Linked DNA regions of Homo sapiens: region 2 is linked to region 1. A link means that fine-mapping ties the variant in region 1 to the expression of a gene that starts in the linked region. Tissue or cell type: B cells. Region 1 holds a variant in brackets; the other region holds the start of a gene. All regions are shown on one strand. Distances are between the middles of the regions.

Region 1 (2,523 bases):
GCCCTAGCCTCTCCTTGCACAGCCCTAAACACAGGGAGCTCACCACCTTCTTTATGCTAGAATAATCCTGGCAACGCTTCCTTCTGCAGAAAGCAGGCCCGGGTACTGAGAATTTACCTAAAGGGTCCCATCAAAAGAGCAGATGCCCCGAAAGCCACTTTGACTGTGAAAGATCAAAAGTGTATGCTACCGTGTTTCTTTTTTTTTTGGAGACAGAGTCTTGCTCTGTCGCCCAGGCTGGAGTGCAGTGGTGCAATCTCGGCTCACTGCAAACTCCACCTCCCGAGTTCAAGCGATTCTTCTGCCTCAGCCTCCCGAGTAGCTGGGATTACAGGCGCCTGCCACCAGGCCCGGCTAATTTTTGTATTTTTAGTTGGGACAGGGTTTCACCATGTTGGCCAGGCTGGTCTTGAACTCCCGACCTCAGGTGATCTGCCTGCCTCAGCCTCCCAAAGTGCTAGGATTACAGGCATGAGCCACCATGCCCAGCCTGCTACCATGTTTCTAATCACTGTTACCATCAGATTTAACATAAATCTGCTGGTTATAGAAGGTATAGAAATTAAATACCAAAAATAAAACTGCCTGTAATTTCGCTATGTAGGGCAGGGCTGGGGGGAAAAAAAGGGTTTGTAATTTATTGTGTCCACATCTACCTCTAGGTAAACTTCCATCAATACTTGAACTTCATCCCCTGCGCCCACCTGGCAAATCCCTCCTCTCCAGGGAAAACTTTTAGGTATTTAATATAACTAACCTTTACCGAGCTCTGGGTTAACCTATCTAATTCTTGTGACAGCTCTGAGACATCTTATAAATGAAGAAACTGAGGCTCAGAGAGGGCAAGTAACTTCCCAGAGGTTGCACAGCTAATAAGGGGCAGAGACATGAATCCATCGGGTGCCAGAACTGAAGTCTCTAGAGTAGGCATGCACTGTACTTTCTTCCTCCTCGCCACAGGAGTGGATACCAGACTGCTCAGCAGCTCAGATGTTTATTCATTCATTCTTTGTGGGGTTTTTTTTGAGACCGAGTCTTGCTCTGTTGCCCAGGCTGGAGTGCAATGGTGTGATCTCGGCTCACTGCAAC[T/C]CCCACCTCCTGGCTTCAAGCGATTCTCCTGCCTCAGCCTCCTGAGTAGCTGAAATCACAGGCAATCAACACCATACCCGGCTCATTTTTGTGTTTTTTTTTTTTTTTTTTCATTTTTGTGTTTTTAGTAAAGACGGGATTTGGCCATGTTGCCCAGGCTGGTCTTGAACTCCTGGGCTCAAGCAATCTACCTGCGTTGGACTCCCAAAGTGCTGGGATTACAGGTGTGAGCCACCGTGGCTGGCCTCATTCATTCATTCTTTCTTCTTCACATTCACTCATTTATTAAGTTACTTGACATTCCTGAGCTCTGGTTCAGCGTCAGGTGCAGGCCGATGCCGTCCCCCACAACCCCCGCCCACATCTGCCATACTTTCAGATGCCCCAAGAACTTGAACTTCATTTATTACAAATAACTGGGTTCACTGCATTGTATGATGAACAGCGAAGCCTAGAGAGGCAGCCCAGGGTGGGGCTCCAACAACTGCCCCCAACATGCCCAGCCCTGCATGAAGTCCTGGGTGGGTGAGGTCATCTGGACTGGGCCTTGGAGCTGTCCTGTATTTATAAAACCAAATGGGTCCAAAGACTTCTGGGTGTGCGCGCGCGCGCGCGCGTGTGTGTATATATATATATAAAACATAGGCTTCCTTTCCACAGGGCGTTGGTAGGTGGGACTGTTGACGCCATCCCTGGGAGAGAAGAAAGTCGGCTGTGGCAGGGACTGGTCCCAGAGTGAGCCTAGGCACTGCATCAGTTTGAGTGGCTGGTTAGCCTGGACCCTGGGCAGGTATGGGGCGGCCCATCCTGCCCAGCCACAGGAAGCTCTAGGCCACCTGGATTTGCAGGTCCTCGTCCTCGTCCAGGTCACTGGTTCCATCCTCGGCCTCCTCGGTGCCAAAGCGAGCACTGCGGATCTTCCCGAAGAGGGGAGCGTTCTGCTGCTGCCTGCGGAGCCTGTGGGGTGGGGGTGACAGGAGGTTAGAGCAGCCTGGCTGGTAGTCCCCCGATAAGGTGGCTGCAGCTGGTGCTGGAGCAGTTAAGCCTTCCCTGGTGCTTTCCCTGCTGTCTCATCTCCTGTAATCTCCTTATATGATAGAAGTGCCATTATCACCCCCATTTTACAAGCAAGGAAACCGAGGCACAGAAAGGTGAAGTCATTTGCTCAAAGTCACACAGATGGTGGGGAGTGGGGCAGAGCTCTGAACTGAAGTGGGTGGTGCCAGAGCAGCTGGGCGGTTAGAGAGGTGAAGGAGCTGGCTCAAGGTCATGCTGCAGGATTTGAACCCAAGCCTGGCTCTCAGAGCACAGGCAGCAGAGTTGGTTGGTGTGACAGTGCAGGGTGGGCTGAGCCCTCTACATTCCCAGTGTCAGTGAGAAAGGGCTCAGCCCTAGTTCTTCCTCACATTAAAATTCCTAAAGTCAAAATTTACG
Region 2 (2,500 bases), 25 kb after region 1:
CCAAGTGGATACGCACAGCTGGAATGGTGGGGTGAACCTTCATGGGGACCCAGCCCCACCCCGACCCCAGCCCCACCCCTCTCGGCAACACCGTGAACTCTTCACTCTTGTACAGCAGACATCCCGCTAGTCCCAGCTCCATCACTGATATGCTGTGTGATATCTGCAAGTCCCTGCCCTCTCTGGGCCTCAGTTTCCTTACCTACAGGATGGGGAGAGGCACTAAAAAGATTCCTGAACGCTCTAACAGGTGGGCAGACCTCCCGAACCCAAACCAATCCAACCCCCACAAGAGCCCTGGGAGAGCGGGGGTGGGAAGGTGGACACCACCCCCACCTAAGGTACTGAAACTGAAGCCCCAGCCCTGCGTCGCCTTAGTCCTCACTTAGTCGACCCCTCCCAAGCCGCTGGCCCTGCGAACCGCCCCGCTCCACCTAGCGACGGGCGGAGGGTGGAGGGGGTTCCCGGCCCGCGCCGCGCGGTCCCGCCCACCCCACCGCATGGCCCCCATTGGCAGTCGCCGCGGCTCTGGGCAGGGCGCCGTGCTCTGATTGGCCAGCGCCGCCCGTCCATCCCGCATTCGCCATGGCGACCACGTTGGGTCCCCCGGGAGAGTCCCAAATTCCGTCCCCGCCCGCCGCCCCCTCCCGTCCGGCCCGGGCCGCGGCATTCCGGAGGCGCCTCCCCTCCCCCATCACCCCGCGGCCCCTCCCCACCGGAGACCTGGGGTTCCGGGGGCTGAGGGAGGCCGGGGAGGCGTCTAGAAAGTTCTGCTCTGAGTTCGGGGGTTGCCGCGGGCGCCCCGACTGTGTCTGCTCCTCCAGCACGCCCCACAACTTAACCCCTTCCTTCCCGCGGAAGGCGCGCGGCCTGGAGCAAGTTCCCGGGCCGCCTTGGCCTGCCGCCCCCCGGCCTGCCGCCCCCGCTCACCTCGGGCCGGGACTTGCGGGCTCCGTACGTCCCAGCCGCTGCGGCGGGGTAGAGCGGGCACCGTGCAGCTGCGACCGCCGCCGGAGGGGCCGAGGGAGGGCCGCGGAGTCTCCTCCTCCCTCCCGGGGGGAGGGGAAGCAGGGGGAGCGGCGGGGCCCCCGAAGCGGTCGCAGGCTGCGGCCCCGCTGTGACCCCGGCCCACCGAGCTGCTGGGGTGGGGGCTCCAGCCTAACTTCGGGGCGAGGGGTGCGGGCCGGGGCGGTGGGCTCTGCTGCAGAGCGGGCCGTACCCCAACGGAGGCCCCACCCCCGTGAGGGGCCGAGAGTTGCGGGGGGGCTCGGCTTTCTTGGTTCAGGTTTCCTCAGCGCCAACTACGTACTAGGCGCCCCCAGCAGAAACGGCCACCGCGGGTCCCAGCTCGGCACGTGGAGCGAGCTTACCAAGTCTTCACTGTTGTTACCTGCATTTTTCCCTGGGCCAGCTCTGCCACCGAGTGGAAGTGGGCCAACAAGTCTGTGCCCATCGGGCCTCAGTTTCTCTTTCTGTACAACAGAAGGGTTGACGAAAGCAACCTTGCGCTTGTTAAGAGGTGGGGGGCGCGGGGAGCACTCGGCCCGGCGGGCGGAGACTTTTCTCTGCATTGCGATGGTGGTTGGCAGGCCCTGGGGAATTACGGTACTTCGCCTTCGGGGACGCCCAGCTGTTTTGGGGCTTTCTCTCTATTGGGGGTAGGATGTTTGTGGTCTTGACTGGAAAGCCGGGACAGGCGTCTGGAGGACTCCCCACTACATCCTGTACCCTGGAAGGCCCCCGAGGTGAATCTATTTAAAAGAAGACCAACAATTCACCAAGATGGTGGGGAAAACCTGGCCTGATTGGGATTTTACCTAGAAAAAGAAGCTAAATATTACGAAGATAAATTAGTTTTACCCCGTGATTAACGGAGTTTAGATTATGATTGCAACCACGCACGCCTTAAAATGAACCAAGAATGAATCAGATGTTAACACTGGAAGTCTTGCTTTTTCTTGTAATAGTTGAGTATGTAGCATCCTTCCCTTCTGAACTGGTTTTTGCAGTAAGAGATTCATTTTTGCAAAAATATTTGAGAGCTTCCTCAAACTCAAGGATCACTCTGAATCCTTTGATAGTCCAGTGCCTTTTTTCGGGTCTGGGTCACTTCCCTTGCAGACGTTCCCTTTCTCTGTGGGCAGCGGCTGTTCCATTTCTCCTGCTTTGCTTCCACCAACTTCATGAAATCCCATACGTTGCAAGACTGGCAGTTTCACTTGTCGATTCATTTGCTTTGTATTTGTTATGCGTGGCTGAATGTTGAAAGCGTCTGTTCACCAGCCAGAGATAGATAGGAGATGTATGTGGGGTTTGAGTACTCAGAGGACAAGGGCATCCACATTTTACAGCTGAGGAAATGAAGGCTCAGAGAGGCTCTTGGCTCAGACTTGCACAAGGTCCTACAGCCAGTAACAGCCTTGGATCAAGAGCCCAGAGGTCTTGCCCAGAGTTTTTGGAGGTGGAAATGGGGCTGGGGAAGGTGGTGGAGACTGAGTTG

Direction of the effects. Alleles are on the strand shown, and positions count from the first base shown. SD is a standard deviation of normalised expression in the study named.
With allele T in place of C in region 1, the expression in B cells of the gene that starts at base 1,002 in region 2 is higher (small effect, 0.37 SD a copy in Fairfax 2012).

The links. PIP is the estimated chance that this variant, and not a neighbour inherited with it, causes the effect. A credible set is the group of variants that fine-mapping cannot tell apart.
Region 2: CCDC102A starts here. The variant in region 1 is the best candidate, but not a certain one, in a credible set for the expression of CCDC102A in B cells (Fairfax 2012, PIP 0.86).

What each region holds. Positions count from the first base shown.
Region 1 is chr16:57,510,825-57,513,347 of GRCh38, forward strand. CCDC102A (coiled-coil domain containing 102A) reads right to left here. Exons shown (of 9, transcript NM_033212.4): 9 at 1,357-2,046. The coding sequence ends at 1,917. Among named protein-coding and RNA genes, the nearest start is that of CCDC102A, 24 kb to the right of the region's middle. The variant T/C (reference allele first, on the strand shown) is at 1,090.
Region 2 is chr16:57,535,570-57,538,069 of GRCh38, forward strand. It overlaps CCDC102A (coiled-coil domain containing 102A), which reads right to left and starts at 1,002. Exons shown (of 9, transcript NM_033212.4): 1 at 931-1,002. It also overlaps a transcript of ADGRG5 not described here. RefSeq lists a silencer at 295-1,244.